Linked DNA regions of Homo sapiens: regions 1, 2, 4 and 5 are each reported to be linked to region 3. Evidence: microRNA targets listed by miRTarBase, many of them from high-throughput screens and not tested one by one. Region 3 holds a microRNA gene; each other region holds the end of a gene's coding sequence. Distances are between the middles of the regions.
Evidence for each region. The annotated mature microRNA hsa-miR-5089-5p reads GUGGGAUUUCUGAGUAGCAUC and lies in region 3 at 2,169-2,189, shown strand. An mRNA with a match to its seed (bases 2 to 7 or 8) in the 3' UTR can be bound and repressed. Matches are read on the target gene's strand: a 7mer-m8 pairs with bases 2 to 8, a 7mer-A1 pairs with bases 2 to 7 and ends in A, and an 8mer does both.

Region 1 (4,116 bases), not on the chromosome of region 3:
GGTGTGTGTTGGGAAACACTACCATCCTTGCTGAGTTTGCCACTGATGATGAAGTCAGCCGCTTTCTGGCACAAGCTCAGCCCCCTACACCTGCAGCAACCCCAAGTGCGCCAGCTGCGGGGTGGCAGTCGCTGGAGACCGGCCAGAACCAGTCAGATCCCGTGGGACCTGCTCTGAATCTTTTTGGTGGGTCCACTGGGCTCGGGCAGTGGAGCAGCAGCGCTGGTGGCAGCAGCGGGGCCGATCTTGCTGGCGCTTCATTGTGGGGGCCCCCAAACTATTCTTCTAGCTTATGGGGAGTCCCAACGGTGGAAGATCCCCATAGGATGGGCAGCCCTGCTCCTTTACTACCTGGTGACCTTCTGGGAGGAGGGTCGGATTCAATCTGAACTTAGAACTTTCAACTCTGACCTCGTGACCTTTTTTGGAACAGCAGCAGCACTAACTTGACCTTTTCGTTTTTTTTTTCAACTTGCAATAAATACATTTTTAAAAGGAAAAAAGAAAACGGAGAGAAAAAAAGGTGGGTCATTGACAGACTGTCTGAGCACATAGTTGCCTCCCTTATAACTTCAGTTTTTTCGTTTGGAATATGAATCCAAAAAGAGAACATATCACTCTTGAAATACTTGAATCATGAACGCCAACCTAGAAAGACAATGTGAAGCAAGTACACATACCATTTAAATTTAAACACAAAAAAATTAAAAAAATTAGTTTCTAGTTTTTCACTTTTTTCATGTTATATGGAAGTTGTTGCTAAGAAACATATATACTGAAAAAAAATAGCTTTTTAACTTTGTTTGCACTGGGTGTGTTTCCGTCCTTAGGTCTACCATGTTTGGGAGGGAGGGAAATTCAAAAGAATTGTTGGGGGAGGGGGGAGGGAAGACTTGACGGAGCCTCACTTTAAAAACAAAAACACAAAAAACCTAAAAAAAAAAAAAAGGAAAAAATTTGTGATTGGCTGGTTGATAAATACCAGTGTGTTCTGGCACATGTAACTGCCCAGGCATGCTCGTTCTGGTGTGTGTGTGCACGTGTGTTCATGTGCATTCGCGTGCATCCTTCTCTGTCTCTGTGTGTGTGCCTGTGTTCTTCCCTTCTCCCCTGCCCCACCCTGACTTCTCAGAAAGCTGCATCGCTGACAGTCTGCAGGCTGGCTGGCCGGCCCATCTGCTTTTTATTTTATTTTTTTAACTATGAGAACACACAGGCCCGGAGAGCCACTGCTACTAAAGCAACTCCATTGGGCTGCATTAAGATGAACAGAGTGCTTTTTAATGATGAAAGCAGGGAGCTCCTTTCCATTTGCAACTTAGCCTGAATGTGGGGTTTCTCTGGCTGTTCTTTTGACCTAGCAGTAGAGTGGAGCACTGCCAAGTCCAAAAAACTAGAGCAGGAGGTACCTCTTGGAGCAACGGTGTGTTTATTTCTGTTTTTTTTTTTTTTTAAGTGAATGGCCACCAGGCACATCTGAGTATCTGTTAAGTTTCATGCAGGCCTTTTCGTTAGTTTGAAATGGGAACGGAAGATAACTTTTGATGATGCGATGTCTCAAAAACAGAGAAACTTTGTTCCCTCTTTCCTTATGATCAGGTTTGAGAAATTCTTCAAAAAATTAGGTGAAGTTGAGTTACATATTTCTGTTGGTTGGTTCTCTTTTTCATTTTATGAAAACAGAAAAGAATAAGTGGTGAGCAGCCTCCTGAAAGCATCTGCAGCTACTCCCTCTGCTCCTTTCTCGCCGAGCGTTACCTGTGCCAGGCCGTGGCGCGTTACAGCACCAGGCCATCACTGACAGAAACGTTTACTTAACGAATGTTCTTAAACCAGTGTGTACTTCAAGCGTTTCCTTTTGTTTCTCTGTGTTGTGTATTTCCTGTGTATGTGGTTTTGCTTAGGCAGGTATAACTTAGCGAAGACTTTTAAGTATTGCACCTTTTTTTGATTTTTGACCTCTTCCCCCCACCTTGTAATTTTGCTTTTTTAATTTCGGTATTTAAATACTTTTTTTTTTTTTTAAGCATCAATGTAGTAGTACTCTGGGCCGAACAGGGGTCAACGTTTAATCTACAGTTATCACCAACATGTATGTACTTATGTCGGAATCAAAATGTATCAAACTGCTTATTGTGAAGAGAATTATAGCAGACCTGAAGGGGGCGAAAAACCAGATAGGGTGGGGGGATGGATGCCGGTGACGTGCTAGCACTTGTGTGGACATCCCAGTCTGCATTATGCTGTTTAACATAAAGTGCCGACATTTTGTACCAGCAAATACCTGCCCATTCCAACCCTTGGTGGGAGCAGACCTCTACTGTCCTCTGTAACTTGCTGCTATTGAGGACAAGGGAGTTTTTCTTTCTTTAGCGTCTTCAGTGAAGGATACAATACAACAATGCCTAATGTATTTGACTTTTTAGCTTGTGTCTGTGTGTAGGTGGGTGGGTGGGTGTGTATAGGAAAAGCCTAAAACAAGTTATTTGCATTTCAGTGGTTTTGTGAGACAAAGAATGGGAAATTCTGTAGCCCTTCTGGCTTACCCTGTTGATTATAAACCTAGCCTCAAAAGAGATTGACAGGCATGACTCAAGTGAGTGTTCACATATACAAGCCTGCATGAGCCCTCTGTGGGTAGGTGGTCACACTTGGCATCTGCAGCATTGACGTGGCCCCGCTGGGTGCCTTGAGCATGCCCTCTTCCTGCTCTGCAATTTGAATCACCACCGTGCCCCTTCCACCACTGTTCCCCATGCAAAAGCTCTGCTTCCAGCAGCCCCCACTGACCGCTCTCTGTGTGGAGCAAAGTGCTGTCGTGCGGTGACCACCAGGTGAAGAGCAGCTTGTATTCAGACATCTAGAGAAGGTTAAATCTTAGTGTCCCTGGGCCAGGAGCATATCCCAAGGCTCCTGCGAGCCAGTGGCGACCCTGTCCACTGCCGCTCTTGGTTCACTGCTGTGTCCTGCCCCACCCTCCTCTCCTCCTGCCTGTTGGTTCCTTGACCTGCACTATGGGTTAGTTGAGTTCCTTACGATACTACGGTGAAAGCCGGGTGCTAGAGCCCCTCTTGTTTACAAGACATAATGAGGGATTTGAAATATGTAAAAATAAACATGAGAAGCTAAAATGTTCTTCCATCATAAGCTTAAAGGGAAAAAAACTAAAAACTTTAAAAAAAAAAGACCAAAAAGTGCGTATATATATACATATAAATATATATTTTAGATGAAGACTAACTCTGGGAGCATTTAACAGTGTTTTTTGTTTCTGTTTTTAACATTTGTTTTCCTGCTTTAAAATTTGCAAGCATTCTCAGGAATTCTAGGGTAGGAAGCCAGTTTTTTGAAGATGGTTTATTTAACCATATCTTATCCTAGAGAGATGGCTGTTTCTTTCCTGTTAATAAACTTTTACAAGTTCCTGAAACTTCAGAAAGTTTAAACAATTTTTACTTAAAAAAATGTAAAAAGAAAAGTCTCCAAACATTATTGTCATACTGGGGATCACACATTTTAAAACACATAGAAATATTTTTTAAAAATTATCAATTTAGCAGCAACAGGTAAATTCATTATCTTAAAAATATGGGAGAAGGATTAAGCTTTGTAAGAGCTCGATCATGGATTCTTTTGAAATTGTGTGTAGTTTAATGGGAGAGTGTTTGGTGTATATAGATGAGAATGCCATCACTTTGTTCCTTTCCATTTGAGACTGAACTGAAATCTCCCCTAGTAATTTTTATTTTTTTAAAGGAACCCTTCTCCTTGTCCCCACAACCCCAGCAACAAAAGAAAGGAAGGAAGGAAGAAACAACAGCTTAAAAAAAAAAGTAATCTGTAAAATAGTACAGTTGGATTGCTGAGAATCTATGTAAAGAGTTAGGAAATATAGGTTAATAATTTTTGGAACAAATTTTAAATATAGGCATTACTAGAGGAAAATTATCTATGGACTGTCCTATTAATGAAGAATGTCTGTCTTACCTCCGTTTGTTTTGGGAGGAGGAGAAAATATAGAAGAATCTAATAAGGAACAAGTGATTTTACTTTTTTAGCTCCCAGCTACTGTTGTGCTCGTTTTAATTGCTGTTTTGAAGATCTGCTGCTTAATTA
Region 2 (4,116 bases), 45 Mb from region 3:
CAAAGTGCTGGGATTACAGGCGTGAGCCACCATGCCCAGCCAGCAAACATGACTTCTAGAAGTACAGACTCTGACAAAATTCTGCATTGTTTCTCTAGCTCACTATCTATACCTTTGCCTCTTGGGTTTTTATCTAATTACATTTAAATGCTCTGCTCTTATTTTCTGCTTGTGTTTAGCTCCTTCCAACTGTGTTTTCCTCAGTCTCGATGTATTTTCATCCTTTGCGCCTGTTTTTATGACTCTATGATGGAGACTTCTCACAATCCCTCTCATTTTTTTTTCACACCTGTATTTTTCCTCCTCTTTTCATTTCTGGGTTCCTGCCTCTTCTTTGTTCTTTGGATATTCAATTTTTTTTTTTGAGACGGAGTCTCACTCTGTCACCCCTGCTGGACTGCAGTGGCACTATCTCGGCTCATTATAACAACCTCGGCCTCCCAGGTTCAAACGATTCTCCTGCCTCAGCCTCCTCAGTAGCCGGGATTACGGGCGCCTGCCACCACGCCCGGCCAATTTTTTGTATTTTTAGTAGAGATGGTGTTTCACCATGTTAGCCAGGATGGTCATCTCCTGACCTCGTGATCCGCCTGCCTCGGCCTCCCAAAATGCTGGGATTACAGGCGTGACCCACCATGCCCAGCCTGGATATTTAAATTGTTCTGTGCTCTCCTCCTTTTTTTTCTCTCTGTGATTCTCTTTGTCAGCTCCTTTGCCTATATTTGCATCTCAGTTGACACCCCTGATTCTGACTTGTCCTTATCTTCCTACCAGTCTCTGCCGACCGGTTACTGTCAGCCTGTCTTTAGGGTTTGCGCTGCAGCTGTTTGTCCTTTGTCTTTCTGCCTGCCTCCAAGTCCCCATATCTCCTGGTCTCTTCTGTCAGTGAATCTTCCCACTGACTGCCTCCTCCGCCTTCTGCTTCTCAGCTCCCCGGACTCGTCCCCGCTCTTCTCTGTTCCCACCTCTCCTCTTGCTCTTCTGATCTCTCTATCTGCCAGTATTTCCTCCATCACTCCTGAGCCTGGGTGTTTCTCCTTGTCACTCACTCTATTTCACTGTCTAGACTCTCTGTGCCTTTCAGCCTTGGGGTCTCTTCTTGTCGGCCTTCATTTCTATTTTTCTGGTCCTTTTTGTTTATAACCCTTTTATCAGTTCTGTGACTTTGGTGTCTCTCAGGATCTATGACAGCCTTTCTCCATATTTCTGCTAGGGCCTGTCTCTTTTGCCCTCCATCCTTCTTTGCCTCTGTCACCTCTATGTGAATAATCCTTCTCTCTTTCTATCTATCACTCAATCTATGTATGTCTGTCTCTGTCATTCTTCGTATCTTTCTGTACCTCCGCTTCTTAGCAAGGTTTTTGTTTTGTTTTGTTTTTTTTTGAAGACAATCTTCCTGTCTCTTGCTTTTGCTCATGTAGCTTTTCTGTGGATGGCTAAGGGTTGCCTCTCTCAGTCCATTGTTTAGTGGAACAGCAGACTTAATCTGCTGGGCACTTCCCGTCACCTCGATGTTCTGGGAAGGAAGGGGTCTTGTTCAACAGAAAAAAACGCAGCAGAAGCAGCAGGGAGGAAGAAGACTTTATGAATGTATCTCAGAAAAGTCCCAGCTCTTCCTTTTTTTTTTTTCTTTAGAGACAAGAGTCTCACTCTGTTTGCCCAGGCTGGAGTGCAGTGGCACGACCTCGGCTCACTGCAACCTCTGCCTCCTGGGTTCAAGCGATTCTCCTGCCTCAGCCTCCTGAGTAGCTGGGATTACAGGCATGCACCACCATGCCCGGCTAATTTTGTATTTTTAGTAGAGACAGGGTTTCACCATGTTGACCAGGCTGGTCTTGAACTCCTGACCTCAGGTGATCCTCCCGCCTCGGCCTCCCAAAGTGCTGGGATTACAGGCGTGAGCTGCTGCGCCCAGCCAGAGGGCCAGCTATTCCTTTATCCTCCTGCAGCCTTCTCTCACACAGTCTACCTCTGCCCTTGTTCTTCCATGAAAGCCTGGGCCTGGGAAAACTCTGTACTGGGCACCTTTCCTTCTGTAATTCTAGACTTCAGTGCCGTCCTAAGAAGACAAACCAGCCCTGTGTTCATTCCTCTAAGAATCCGAATTGTCTTTGAAAAGTCAAAAGGGGTCGGGTACGGTGGCTCACGTCTGTAATCCCAGCACTTTGGGAGGCTGAGGTGGGTGGATCACTTGAGTGCAAAAGTTTGAGACCAGCCTGGGCAACATGGCAAAACCTGGTCTCTACAAAAAAATACAAAAATTAGCCTGGTGCAGTGGCGTGCACCTGTAGTCCCAGCTACTTGGGAGGCTGAGGTGGGAGGCAGGAGAATTGCTTGAGCCTGGGAGGCAGAGATTGCAGTGAGCCAAGATCAAGCCACTGCACTCCATCCTGGGCAACAGAGCAAGAACTTGTCTCAAAAAAAAAAAAAAAAAAAGAAAAGAAAAAAGAAAAGTCAAAAGATACTAAAAATAAAAATAAAAATAAAAGGCTAGACACAGCAGGACCAGGGTTAAGGAGAAAAACAGGAGTGTGCGCCTGTTCTCACGTCTGTAATCCCAGCACTCTGGGAGGCCGAGGCAGGTGGATTACTTGAGGTCAGGAGTTCGAGACCAGCCTGGGCAACATGGTGAAACCTCCTCTCCACCAAAAAATACAAAAATTAGCTGGGCTTGGTGGTGCATGCCTGAAGTCACAGCTACTCGGGAGGCTAAGGCAGGACAATCACTTGAACCCAGGAGGCTGAGGTTGCAGTGAGCCGAAATCGTGCCACTACACTCCAGCCTGGGTGACAGAGTAAGATTCCGTCTCATAAAAAAAAAGAAAAAGAAAAAGAAAAACAGGAGTGTGGCTTTGAGAACCAGAAACATCAGCAGCAATTGCTGTGGCCCAGGTTCTGTCTCTTGGCAACTATCACGTCCATCTCTGCTGCTACAGATAGCACCTCCTCTACCTTCCTCCCACTGCCAGAATTTGGTTATAGGTGAGATCTCTTTTCTCTCTGTCCCCACCCGCCCCATACCAGATCTCTCTGATCCTAGTGGGACTTCACCTTCCCCCATCTGTCCCTGGGTTAAAGCAAAGAGCTTCTGTCTCCACTGGCAGTTTCTTCCAGCTGCATGCCTCCTGCCACCCTTTACTGATAGCTCTAGCTGTACCTCTTGAGTTTATTTGCTGGAAAGGATGCTCATCTGATGACGGATTTCAGTGAACAGAAACCCAGGTTCCCACCCATCCAACATCAGCATTTCTTCTTAGATCCGAGGAAGGGGAAGGGATGTGAGTTAGCTGGAAGAGAAACTGAGATTCTGATGAGCAAGTCTGGCCCTCACCCTGATGGGGGACTGTGCATGGAAGACCCTCATCTCCTTGTCCTGGCCCCACCTCCCCCAGCGAGGGGCCCATGGCTTCTCTCTAGTCTTTCAGGCTGAGAGTCGAACTGTTGCTGGTGACAGGTCCATTGTCACGACGTGTCCTGGTCCCCCTGGTTTTCTCATGGCCAGGGCTGGGTGGATGGGGTCGAGACTGTAGGACATCATTGACCAGAATACGGATCCCCAATATGATGCTCATGATGCCCACAGTGACCAGCCCAATTCCACCCAGGGTGACCAGAGCAAGAGGAACCTGGTGGTGCTGCCGGAACAGCCACAGACTCATCCACCCCAGCGGGACCAGGCGGAAGAGGGCCAAGGTGGCCAAGGAGGCCCAGCTGGTCACGCTGAAGGCCAGGGATGGGGCCTGGCGAGAAAGCAACAGCAGCTTCCGCAGGTGCAAGCAGGCAGAGTTCAGTTCCAGGAGCAGAGACACCATGGAGAAGCCCACGTAGTGGCCAGACAGAACAGCGGTGCTGAGGCAGCTCACCACCTGGGAGCCAGGGTCACAGGTCAGAGGAACCCCATGACCTGCCAGCCATCATGTCCCAATAACCCAGGCCTGAAGAAAGAGGCTTCCACGCAGTCTGTGGGGCTCCCCAAACACCTGACCTTTATGCTTTTACCTTTATCCTGGGGCCCTGAGCAGCCTTGAAACAACCCTTCCATAGATGGAACCAGGCTTGGCCCAGGGAGGGGCTGTCTCACCCCCTAATACCCCCTTAACCTCCCATTCCTGGGCT
Region 3 (4,116 bases):
TACGTTCAAAGTGGTGCATATGCTAGAATAACATTTTCTGGAGAAAATCTCAAACCTAATTCTATCGATCCCTCAAAATATGAAAGGCTGCATGCCAAAGGATTAATAGTGATTCCTTCTAGGTTGCAGGAATGTGGCTACTGTTTGCCAACATTTTTCTTTTTTTTGTTGCTATAAATGTTAATTACTTGTATCATCGCTTTAAAACATAGGCCGGTGCGGTGGCTCATGCCTGTAATCCCAGCACTTACAGTGGATCATTTGAGGTCAGGAGTTTGAGACCAGCGTGGCCGACATGGTGAAAACCCATCTCTACTAACATATAAAAATGAGCCAGGCATGGTGGTGGGTGCCTGTAATCTCAGCTACTTGGGAGGCTGAGGGAGGAGAATCACTTGAACTTGGGAGGCAGAGGTTGCAGTGAGCTGAGATCGCACTACTGCACTCCAGCCTGGGCAACAGAGCGAGACTCCTTCTCAAAATTAATTAATTAATTAATTAAAAAGGAAAAATATAATAAGGACACACTCCATGGCTTCTGCAGTCTCTTCTGAGCTGATAGTCAAGGTCCTGGCATGGCTTGGCTCTCCTCCAGTGCTGGGTTAGGGGCTCTGTGACCCAGTGCCCCACCCTAGCCTGGCCTAACTATATCCTTTGCTGACCTTGAACCCCACACAGATCCTGGCAAAGCTGCATGGCTCCATGAATACATGTATGTACATGTAGGAGCTTTTCATGCACTTTCTCACTTAAACTTTCCAACCACCTAGAGAGCTCAGCTAGAGTACCTCACTTTACAGATGAAGAAACAGGCCTTGGAAGGTGAAGCGACTTTCTCTGATGACTGGAAAGTGTGGAGGGAAGTCCTGCACCCCGACCTGCCTGTATCAAAGACTTGTCTCTCACGCCTCAAGCTCTGTGGTTCTGTGCACACCTCACCAGGCCCCCACTCACCCATCTAACATGTGTTTGTTCTGTGTGCATGTTTTTCTTCTGTGTTCTGGGCCACACCTGTTGGGCACCTCTCCCTCCCCGGCAAGGGGGAAGCTTTAGGAAGTAGAGAGAAAGGCAGGGCACAGGGCCTGGCTCTGAGGAAGGGTCACACTTACAGCCAGGCCTGGGGCTGGTGGGGTAGGCAGAGGGCACAGGGCACGTGGGGGAGAGGGGGGACCTTCCCAAGACAGGGAACTGTCTCAACCATAATCACCCTCAGTGTTGCTGCTTCCCCGCTTTATGTTCTATAGAGACACCCGGAGGGGACAGCCTGCTGTGGTGGGCACTGTGCTGGGCCCAGGCTGTGTGCTGACAGAACCCTGGGGCTGGGCTGGGGCAGGAGGCGAGACCCTGGCTTCCTGCTTTGCTTCTCCCGCCACCCGCTTCTTCCTCCTCTCTTCCCTTCTCCTTCCATCCCATCTTCTCCCTGCTGTCCTTTCATATGCTTCCTCTTCCCCCTTCTTTCTCCTCCTCCTCCTCTCCCTTCTTCATTTCTAGTCCAGCTATAGTGGGAAGAAGTCCCTGCAAGGAGCTCTGGCTCTTGGCCAAGAGGGAAGGAGAACCTGGGACAGGAAAGGATTCCCAGCAAAGGGTTGCACACTGGGCACCCCGAGCCCTTGCTGAACCTCAGCTTTGGAGCACAAGGTGGAATTCAGGTTTGTCAGCCTCCCCAGCTCAGCAGGGAACCAGCAGTCTGCACAATGTGACCGTTGGTGACGGATGTTGGCCTCTGCCCATCTGGCTGCATTGCTGTCAACATACAGGTTCCATGTCCCGGGCTTTCTGCCCAGGCACTCCCCTGCAAAGTGAGCCCCAGGAGAAACCCGGGTTTACAGCTGCTCTGTAGCCCCAAACCCTGTACCCCACTGGCTGACGCTGGCTACCCAAAAAGAAATTATTGAGGCACAGAGGATGGCAGCACTCAATCTCCCGTGTGGACGAGCGTCTCTGCAGTCATATTATTAGCATCTCGAGGGCAGAGCCTGAGTTGCCTTCACCTCTGCAACTTCCTTAGCACCCAGCATTAGGAGAGCGACATAAGACACACCTAAAAAATACTGGCACTGACATGCAAACCTAGGTCTTGTACGTCAAGTTTATTAGGAGTGTAAAACTTCTTGTAGTATTCCCTCTAACTTAGCCAGGTGGGAAAGTGTCAAATAAAAAGGACTTCAGTGGGATTTCTGAGTAGCATCCTTGGAATCTGCACTCAAGGGATGCTACTCGGAAATCCCACTGAAGTCCTTTTAATTAAATGTGTGTGCATGTGTGCAACCCACATGTGTACACGTATACCTTGCCCCCAAAACTGGAATGCCGGATGAGGGCCATTTCTGCTGTACCCACTGCCTCTGCCACTCATTAGCTGAGTGTGACCTTGAGCCCATTATCTAACCACACAACCAGATGACAATCTCATATGACAGCTGGCTTGCTCACTCTCACTCTGCTGCTGCTTTTTTCTTTTTCTTTTCTTTTTTCTTTTTTGCCATATAGATGGGGGTCCCACTGTGTTGCCCAGGCTGGTCTCGAACTCGTGGGCTCAAGTGATTCGCCCACCTTAGCCTCCCAAATTACTGGGATTACAGGGATGAGCCACCACACCTAGCCTCTGTTGCTTCGTTGTTGAAAATTGTTGAGATCTAGCGTTCCCCATGGGTTAAACTCTCCTTATCCATGGACTGGAGTGCACTTATCATGGGATCTCAAGTCTAAGTAATAGAACTATGACTGCAAGGGTGAGCAGGCGCTGCCTCAGAACACCCCGCAATGCTGTCATCTCAGAGGCTGGGACACCTGCCCCGTCTGCCGAGCTGGGGTTTGCTGTCCTGGACACCCCGTGTATCTGCTGTGATCTTTATTGACAAGAAAGAATCTTGCTTTCTTGACAAGAATCTGCACTCAAGAGATACTACTCGGAAATCCCACTTAAGTCCTTTTTATTAAATGTGTGTGCATGCGTGCGACACATGTGTACACGTATACCTTTCCCCCAAACTGGAATGCTGGATGGGGGCCATTTCTGCTGTACCCGCCACCTCGCATGCTCCATTCTTTGCCTCTGAAGCCACCCCCAAAGCTCAAGGCTTCTTTCCATCTACTACTGAGTTGGGGTCTGGGGAGGGCGACCCCCAGCAGCCACAGCCGTGCACCCCTCTATGTGAACTTGGCTTAGACAAGTAAGTAAGAAAGTAAGTGGATGTGGTGATGTAAGCCCTCCCTACTTCCCCCGTTCTAGGGGACATCTTGCTGGTGAAGGCACAGCTGACCCCAGAAGTACTATCCCCGACTCAGAGGACAGGATGTGGGGGATTTGACCTAGGCCCTGAGACGCATGGAACCAGCTACCTGGGGAGCAAAGCAAGTGCCAGGGTTTCTGGGGCGCTGGCCAGGGCCAGACGCTAGGTCTGCCATCCGTTGCTCACCCAGTGCCTGGCACAGTGCCTAGCCCACAGGAGATTTACAATAGACACCGGTGGAATGAATGAGCTTGGACAAGATCAGTAAACAGAATCTTAATTTCCTCTCCTATAAACAGGAAATTAGAGGAGCATCTGCTCCTCTTACCAATGTGTTGTGGGGAGCAAAGGAGGTCATCTCCGCCGGGCGCGGTGGCTCACGCCTGTAATCCCAGCACTTTGGGAGGCCGAGGCGGGTGGATCACAAGGTCAGGAGATCGAGAGCATCCTGGCTAACACGGTGAAACCCCGTCTCTACTAAAAATACAAAAAATTAGCTGGGCGTGGTGGCGGGCGCCTGTAGTCCCAGCTACTCGGGAGGCTGAGGCAGGAGGATGGCGTGAACCCGGGAGGCAGAGCTTGCAGTGAGCCCAGATCGCACCACTGCACTCCAGCCTGGGGGACAGAGCAAGACTCTCTCTCAAAAAAAAAAAAAAAAGGTCATCTCAAGTGAAACTGATTTGAATCCCAGCTCTGCCCCTTTCTAGCTGCGCTACCTCAGGCAACCTCTTGGAGCCTCAGTTTCCTCATCTGTACAATGGGAGGAGCTACAAAACCTTCTTCGAGGGAGTGGAAGCTCAGTGTTTGGCATATTAGGCATTCGCTACTATTTTCGTCATGCTTATGAAAGTACTCTGAAAACTGCAAATGCTTTTCAAATATG
Region 4 (4,111 bases), not on the chromosome of region 3:
TTGGAAGCCAGACATATCCTCTCTGACGCTATGGGGTTTCTTCTCCTTAGAGCTCTTCTCTGAGGTTCCCATTCTGGGCCGGAGCCCTCTCAGGAGTGAGTGGATGGGTCCGGGGTACTGTCCCACCTTGAGGGGGGCTTGGCGGTTGCCGTGGCAGCCCTGTCTCACTAACCGGTGCGTGGCGGGAGCAGGTGGTTGAGGCCCACCCTCTAGGGGAGGCCAGCCCTGTGGGGGTACCATGGAGGCCACAGAGGTGGTGGTGGGGAGATGGGGTGGGAGAGAAGGGGCATGATCAGAAAAGGGCCTCCCTGGACCTCGTGCGCCTGCCTTCCTCCCCTCATGGGGCCAGTGTCCCCAGGCCTGTCTGTCTAGGCCTGGCTGTCAAAGAAAGGTTCCAGTCTCTTCCTCCCCATGTGCCCTGCTTTGCCAGGTGGGTCAGGGCAGGCTGGAGGAAGGAGGGTCAGTCCTGGCTGGGCTTCCCTATCTCCTGGCAGTCGTGGGAAAGACAGAGGCATCTTCCTCACTGGTGGAGTGAGGCACGAATCTAAAGGGGATGGGAAGACCTTCTGTGGGTGTGAGCATGGGAGTGGGCAGCACTTAGATTCGGAGCCATGGATAGTCCGGAGTCCAAGGTCTCTGGGTGAGCAGACAGTCGGCCAAAGGCCAGCCTGGAGTCAAAGAGACCAGACCCCTGCTTAGATTGCCATACTCGCACCATTCCAAACCTGCCTCCCTCACACCCTGCCATGGGGGAAGAGGTGCCGTCTTCCTCCAGTGCCTCCCTTCCCAGGATCTCCCCACCCTGGGCTCAGCCAGAACTCCCATTTGGGAGGCTTAGTTCCATGTGTCCATGAAGGCCCAGCTTCTCTGGGGAGTGACCAGCTGCCCAGGAGAAACTCCTGCATGCAGAAGAGACTCACAGGTTTGGGTTCGCAGGCACGAACTTTGGAAACCGGAAGAGTCTGGCGCACTTACACCAGGCTCTAATCCCCCACCTGATGGCTGGCAGCAAAGAGCCAACGCAAGGGGCAGAAGCCTGCTCAAAGTCCAGACACAGTCCGTGAAGAGAGAGCCCCTCTCAAGAATTAGGTCCAGGCTGGGAGGAATGTGGGGGGAGCTTGTAGTTCCTGGCTCAGTCTTTTCTCAGGGGAGTGGCACCCCAGTATCCACTTGGCAGATCCTAGTTGGATAACTGCTCAAGATGCAAAGGGAGAATGGGTGGAAAGAACAGTGACGTGGAAGAGGTTTGGGATACTGGCCTAAGACATACAGAAACGTGAGTTGGGTTTAGGGGACAGCTGTGCAGAGAGATGGGGCATGCTGACTCGGCAGGTCAAGGCCTTGTGGCTGCTGGCCCTATCGGGCCCCTTTGTCTCATGAAGATTGAGCACTTCTCCTGTCCCCAGCCAACTGTCCTGTCCAGGGGCATAGGAGATAGCCCCCAAGTTCTATAGCTATAGGGTTCCCATCAGTTGAAACAGATTTGCTTTTTCGCTATTCCTCTTCGTAGCCCCAAATTCGTTGTTGGAGGCGGTCTCCGCTGTGTCATGCCATGAGCAAAGAGTGAAGAGAGCTGTGTCCACAGCACGAAGGGGTCTCCTTGGCCAGTGTCCAAGCCCCCTTTCCTGGATATCTTCAGCCTTAAAGAACAGTCACAAGGCCACCCATTGGTTGAGGAAGTCATTGGAGAATGGGAGTTTCGGAATCTGGCTGCCGAGTGACAGCATCCCTGAATCATGCGTTCCCTGCTTGTCCCAGCTTTCCTTCCATCCTCCACCCCAGGGAGGATGCAGGGACTGGCCAGAATGGAGGAAGAGCTGGAAAGACTCGTGGGCCTCAGTCCCTCATTGCAGGCTGAAGGTGGGCAGCGGAGCACATAGTCTTGTCCCTTCCAAAGCATGGCCAGTTTAGACTGATTCTTCCTATCTGGCTTCTAAAGTCTAGCACCCTCCTAAAGTTACTCACCTTCCCTGGCTCTGCGGCCTGGATTAAGCTCATTTCTATTTTGCAACCCATTCCCCCATTTTCCTCTCTTTCCTCTCAAATCCTAGAAAATACATATGGTGGGGAAGCTAAGGAAATTTCTATTGGCTTTTCCCCCTTTCTGCTGCTTTGTGCCAAAGCTAGAATGGAACAGTCAGCCCCCTCTCCCTTCAGCCCTCTGTTCCTCCCCACATCGACTCTGGCCGGAACCATCCATCTTACTGTTCTCCTGCATCTAAACCTTTTTGCCACCATCTCCCTCTGCCATCTCTTACTTCAGTCTCCCTCCTGCTCTGCCAGCATGGAGAGTGAGGGAGGCTTCCAAAAATGCACATTCTGTTCAGATGAAAGGAAAAGGCTGGGGTGGGACTGGTGGATCCATCGTGGACCTGTTGGGCTCATGTGGTGTGGTGTCCGGAGACTGTGACTTCCTGAGGGTTTAAAGACTAAAATGGGATGGACTGAGGCGCGTGCTGTGTGCACCACGGAGGGCTGGCCTCTGCCTGGCTCGGTGGGTGCAGATGAACACACGTGGGGAATCACTGTCAAATCCAGTACTGTGCCCCACAAAAAAGCTGAGTTTATTGCTCACGGGAAACTCTGCCTCGAGGCAGGCAAAAATGCTATTACGGGTTGTATTAGGAGAATATGGGTTTTCTCAGTTTTCCCAGAATGAGGAAGCTCCTCAATGCCCCTATAGGAACTACTTTGAAAAGTTAATGCAAACCTTTGAAAGAAAGGAAGAAAGAAAAAAACAAAGAAAAAGAATAGATTTATATGCCTATATATGACTATATGGAGTCCTGTAGATAAATACGAGCCCACTTTTTTTTTTCAGCCTATCCTCCCCCACAGAGGCTGCTGCGCTACTTACAAATTGAATTAAATGAGGGCTGAAACGGCACGCTTCAGCATGTACTGTAGTCACCGTGGAAGAACAAGTCTTTCCAATATTGGGGCATGTATTGATTTCTAAAAAATGTCTGCCTGGGGAATGAAATATGCACATGTATTTCATATTCACAGATCTGCTTCCGAAAACCTCTCTATTTAATATCACTCAATTATGAATTTGTTTTGCTTTCAGAGGAATGGAATGCATTTTAGTTTTTATAAATTTGGGGAGAGACAACACTCTGCCCAGGTAAGAGGAGAGGAAGTTCAGGGGTCCAGCTGTCCATACTGCTGGCTAGAGGAGGAGACAGATCCGGGAGAGGTCCTGGAGTGTTTTGCCTTTTCCTTTCTCCCCCTGACCAATCCATCCTGGGAAACCCCAATAGTGTCATTGATTGCCACATCCTGGGCTGCATCTTCTAGCGCCCACCTCTCCCGACCCCAGGCCAGGGCTGGACGTGAAAGTTGGGCCCCTGCCTGGTCTCGGTGCATGTCCTTCCTGCCCACCTGCTTGTCTTCCTTTTCCTAACTCTATTCGTCTTTCTCTCTCTTCTACACAAACACTTCCTTCCCTTCTCTTCCTCTCGTTCTTCCTCTCTTCCCTTCTCTGTTCATCCAACTTGCCTCAAAAAGAAAACCATTTAAAGGGGGGGGGTGTCTTTTTAGCTTTTTGCATCTCTGTTGTTGCCATTTTCGAAGTTGAGCCCTTGCTAGAGATTCCGAGGTCCTCAGTTTCCTCAAATAGATAGATATATATTTTTCCCTTAAATGAGATGAAATGAGTGGCGTCCTGGGGTGGAGGGAGGCGCTGGCTGGAGTCGGGGCTGGGGGTGGGAGGGGGTGAGGGAAAGGTTGGGGGGGGACGCATCACTCAACGTTGCTGCTGTCGAAGGTGTGGCACTGAAAGTCCCCGTCAACGTACTCCATGCCTGGCAGCTTCATCCCGTACTTGTCCACGCACCAGCAGATGCCACGTTTGCGGCCACGGGAAGGTTTGCACTGGGGTGAGTAGAGCAACAGGCGGTGAGGACGGCCGCACCCCAGGGCTCTGCTCCTCCCTGCCCTGCCTCTTGTCTACCCCAAGGCAAGACTCTCATCCCCAGAGAGTTGAGGGCACTAGACCCGACCCTTGGGTTTCTGGTGTCCCCATTTCACGGAAAGACCCAGGGAAAATGTGAATTTAGGCAGCCTACCCTTGGCAAGCTCCTTCAATCCCTTTCTTTCCTTTTTTTTT
Region 5 (4,116 bases), not on the chromosome of region 3:
GGAGGCGGAGGTTGCAGTAAGCTGAGATTGTGCCACCGCACTCCAGCCTGGGGGATAGAGCAAGCTTCTTTCCCCAAAAAATAAATAAATAAATAAATAATCAGTCTGGTTACAGTGTGGGGATATAGGATGGAGGGGACAGAGTTGAGGCAGGGAGAGACCAATGGGGGTCATGGCAGTCACCTAAACAAGAACTGGTGGCCTGGACTGAGTTGGTGGCAGTGGAGTTCGGTTGAAGTTGGCAGTGTGACCGCTAAGTTAAATCCACAGAACTTGCTCAGGAAAAAGGTCAGGTCGAGAATAACTCATAGGTTTTCAGTTTGGGCAGTTGACACAATGCTGCTGTGTCTTTTGGTAGGATGGGGAAACCTGGGGTGGTGGAGTGAACAACGGCCACCCAGAGAGAGCAGGTCCTAATTCCTAGAGCCTGGAAATGTCACCTTCTATGGAAGAGATCTGTAGGAGTGATCAGGGGAAGGATTTGGAGAGAAGGTTATCCTGGATTATCTGGGCAGGTCCTGCATGGCATCACAAGTATCCCTATAAGAGAGAGGCAGAGGAAGGCCTCTCTTATAGGGAGAAGCGCAGTGGGTCACACCTGTAATCCCAGCACTTTGGGAGACTGAGGCTGGTGGATCCCTTGAGCCCAGGAGTTCACAACCAGCCTAGCCAACATGGTGAAACCACGTCTCTACTAAAAACACAAAAATTTGCTGAGTGCACGCCTGTAATCCCAGCTACTCAGGGGGCTAAGTTAAGGGAATTGCTTGAACCTGGGAAGTGGCGGTTGCAGTGAGCCGAGATCACACCACTGCACTCCAGCCTGGGCAACAGAGTGAGACTCTGTCTCAAAAAACAAAAAATAAGAGAGAAGCAGAGGAAGATTAGACCGGCACATACAGAAAAGGCCACGTGAAGATGGAGGCAGAGATTGGAATGATGCGGTCACAGGCCAGGAAACACCAGGGCATGGCAGCCACCACCTGAAGCTGAAGAGGAAAGGGGCAGGTTTTCCCCGACAGTCTCCAGAGGGAGCGCGGCCTTGCCGTCATCGTGATCTTGGACATCTGGCCTTCAGAACCATGAGAGATTAAATTTGTTTGAAGCCACCAAGTTTGTGGTCATTTGTTACAGTAGCCACAGGACACCACAGCCACAGGATAAATCTCAGGGATGGGGGAGTAGGAAGATCATGAGCGCGGTTTTGGACATGCCCTTGACGTCCAGGCGGAGCTGCTGAATGGCTGGAGCGCTACTGGATGTGGCCTGTAAGGGACGGGTCTCCCGGAGAGGGAACTTCTGAGTCATCCCTGTGGAAGTGATGACTGGAGCTATGGGTGTGGAGGGGTAGACAGCCAGAAGAGGAGCCTGGAGGCCCTCAGACCATAAGTGGTGAGGACGAGAGGCTGAATCCTCAAAGGAGACCGAGGAGAGGCAGGAGGAGAGGCAGGGCTGTGGGGAGGCTGAGGGTTGCTGTTCACCCCTGCTAGGCTCCCTCATGCCCTCTCACTGGTCTGTGCACCCAGTTTGACTTCCAGTGGCCAGAGCCAGCATCTTGGTTAGAAGGCTACCCCGGAGCTTCCAGGACCCACTTAGCCTATGAGTATCGTGAATCAAAGGGTTATGGGAGGCTAAGCACAGTGGCTCACACCTATAATCCCAACACTTTGGGAGGCCAAGGTGGGAGGATTGCTTGAGGCCCAGACCAGCCTGGGTAACATAGCAAGATCCCATCTCTACTAAAAATTTAAATATTAGCTGGGTATGGTAGCAGACACTTGTCGTCCCAGCTACTCAGGAGGCTGAGGCAGGAGGATCACTTGAGCCTGGGAGGTCAAGGCTGCAGTGAGCTACAGTTGCACCACTGCGCTCCAGCCTGGGTGACAGAGCAAGATCCTGTCTCTAAAAATAAAGACTCAAGGCTGGGCACGGTGGCTCACGCCTGTAATCCCAGCACTTTGGGAGGCCGAGGCAGGCGAATCATTTGAGGTCAGGAGTTCGAGACCAGCATGGTCAACATGGCAAAACCCCATCTATATTAAAAATAAAAAAATTAGCTGAGCATGGGGTGCACACCTGTAATCCCAGCTACTCGGGAGGCTGAGGCAGGAGATCACTTGAACCTGAGAGGTGTAGGTTGCAGTGAGCTGAGATCGTGCCACTGCACTCCAGCCTGGGTGACAGAGCGAGACTCCATCTCAAAAAAAAAAAAAAAAAAAGCAGACTTGAGCATAAAGTGCTGGGATTATAGGCATGAGCCACCATGCCCGGACTTTTTTTTTTCTTGTTTTCTTTTCTTTTTTTTTTGAGATGGAGTCTTGCTCTGTCACCCAGGCTGGAGTGCAGTGGAGCAATCTCAGCTCACTGCAACCTCCACCTCCCAGGTTCAAGAGATTCTCGTGCCTCAGCCTCCCGAGTAGCTGGGATTACAGGTATGTGCCACCACACCCAGCTAATTTTTGTATTTTTCATAGAGACAGGGTTTCACCATGTTGGCCAGGCTGGTCTTGATCTCCTGACCTCAAGTCATCCTTCTGCCTTGGCCTTCCAAAGTGCTGGGATTACAGGTGTAAGCTGCTGTGCCCAGGCTCTGTGCCTTCATTTAAACCCATGTCTCCTGACCAAATTGTCTCTAAGACTAAAAGAAATGTGAGAAACAAGGAGTCTCCCATAAACAGGGAGTGAGGAAGGCTTGGGAACTGCACGTGTTCGTTTGTTGGGTCTAGAACATGGATCCGCTCTCTTCCCACAATCTGCAGAGCAAGTTTCAGGCAGGGCTGATACTGCCTGCTGCGCAAGGGTGAGGACGGTAAGCAAGGGATGCCTGGTGCTCCTGGATGTTGCTTCTGGCCATTTCCCACCTCTCCCAGCTCCCACTCCTCCTGATATCCTGCCTTACATCCAGCCACCCTGAACTTCTCATAACCAGAGTCCGCACGCCACTCCCCCTTTTACAGGACTGTTCCCTCGGCTTGCCTGGCAAACTCGGGTCCTGGGCCCTTCTCAGCCATCAGGCGTGTGCCCCTCTGCCAGGCCTCCCAGACACCTGCTCCTCCTCTAGTGTTTTGTTTTCTGAGACAGGGTCTCGCTCTGTCACCCAGGCTGGATCATGCAGTAGCATGATCATGACTCACTGCAGCATCAAACTTTGGGCTCAAGCAATCCTCCCATCTCAGCCTTATGAGTAGCAGGGACTATAGGCGCATGCCACCATGCCCAACTAATTTTTTTATTTTTGTATTTTTTGTAGAGACGGGGGTGTTACTACATTGGCCAGGCTGGTCTCGAACTCCCGGCCTCCAGCAATACTCCTGCCTTGGCCTCCCAAAGTACTGGGATTGCAGGCATGAGCTACCCTCCTCTAGTATTTCTGTAGCTTGAGTGAACTTCTGCTGTTCTAGGTACCCACAGTTCACCATCTGCCTCCCCACCTGTCTGCGAGACCCTTGAAGGCAGGGACGTGACTTTCCTCTATCTTCCCCAGGCTCAGTTATAGAGCCAGCTATAGGCAGCTGCTTGGGAGGCGCTGGTTAAGCTGAATGGAGGAACCAGTGGAGCTGAGATGCCCGTGCCCGCAGCCACCAGACCCTGGCTGAGCTCTCTCCAAGGTTATTACCTGGAGGCCATGGAGTGGAACTTCTGGAAGGCAAGAGAGAGGGAGGTTAAGGCTAGAAGGTGGGAAGCCAGGGCACTGTTGGGAAGGGGAAGGCCCTGGCGGGTATGGGGATGGGACGCCTCCCTGTCCACTCACCCAGATGAACTCATGGTGGTCCTCATTGCCGAACTGTTCCAGCACACACTCGGCTTGGGCCAGCCGCTCCCGGGTTCCCTGGGCCTGCTCCAGCTGCATGTCCAGGGAGGCCACCAGGCCACGGGTGTGACCCCCTATCCCCTCCAGGCAGCGGGCCTTCTCCTCGTCCACCGGGTGGCGCAGCTCCTGGAACTCGCGGCGGATCACCCAGCTGAAGACATCCGACTCATTCTGGGACAGGGAGGGCTGCTCACTGCAGAGTCACAGCCGAGCTGCCAGGCTCTGTCTGGCTGGCCTCGGTGTCCCCAGGGCCTTCCTGACCGGGTTGGTCCTGGGACCTGAGTCTCAGGGGAGGCTGCATGGCC

Region 1: miRTarBase lists TNRC6B as a target of hsa-miR-5089-5p. Seed matches in the 3' UTR shown: 7mer-A1 at 2,902-2,908.
Region 2: the mRNA of TLCD2 is a reported target of hsa-miR-5089-5p. Seed matches in the 3' UTR shown: 7mer-m8 at 1,885-1,891, 7mer-m8 at 1,751-1,757, 7mer-m8 at 613-619 and 7mer-m8 at 9-15.
Region 4: the mRNA of IGFBP5 is a reported target of hsa-miR-5089-5p. Seed matches in the 3' UTR shown: 7mer-A1 at 1,247-1,253.
Region 5: the mRNA of TRIM73 is a reported target of hsa-miR-5089-5p. Seed matches in the 3' UTR shown: 7mer-m8 at 3,334-3,340.

What each region holds. Positions count from the first base shown.
Region 1 is chr22:40,322,853-40,326,968 of GRCh38, forward strand. It overlaps TNRC6B (trinucleotide repeat containing adaptor 6B), which reads left to right. Exons shown (of 23, transcript NM_001162501.2): 23 at 2-4,116. The coding sequence ends at 389. Among named protein-coding and RNA genes, the nearest start is that of ADSL, 22 kb to the right of the region's middle.
Region 2 is chr17:1,704,357-1,708,472 of GRCh38, forward strand. It overlaps TLCD2 (TLC domain containing 2), which reads right to left. Exons shown (of 4, transcript NM_001164407.2): 4 at 1-3,866. The coding sequence ends at 3,414. Among named protein-coding and RNA genes, the nearest start is that of TLCD2, 4.0 kb to the right of the region's middle.
Region 3 is chr17:46,970,859-46,974,974 of GRCh38, forward strand. It overlaps MIR5089 (microRNA 5089), which reads left to right and starts at 2,159; the gene lies at 2,159-2,242. It also overlaps a transcript of LRRC37A2 not described here and a transcript of GOSR2 not described here.
Region 4 is chr2:216,673,007-216,677,117 of GRCh38, forward strand. IGFBP5 (insulin like growth factor binding protein 5) reads right to left here. Exons shown (of 4, transcript NM_000599.4): 4 at 1-3,876. The coding sequence ends at 3,745. Among named protein-coding and RNA genes, the nearest start is that of IGFBP-AS1, 19 kb to the right of the region's middle.
Region 5 is chr7:75,404,705-75,408,820 of GRCh38, reverse strand. TRIM73 (tripartite motif containing 73) reads right to left here. Exons shown (of 5, transcript NM_198924.4): 4 at 3,752-3,982; 5 at 3,216-3,639. The coding sequence ends at 3,613. LOC124901676 (a long non-coding RNA gene) reads left to right here. Exons shown (of 2, transcript XR_007060389.1): 2 at 1-1,113. Among named protein-coding and RNA genes, the nearest start is that of TRIM73, 11 kb to the right of the region's middle.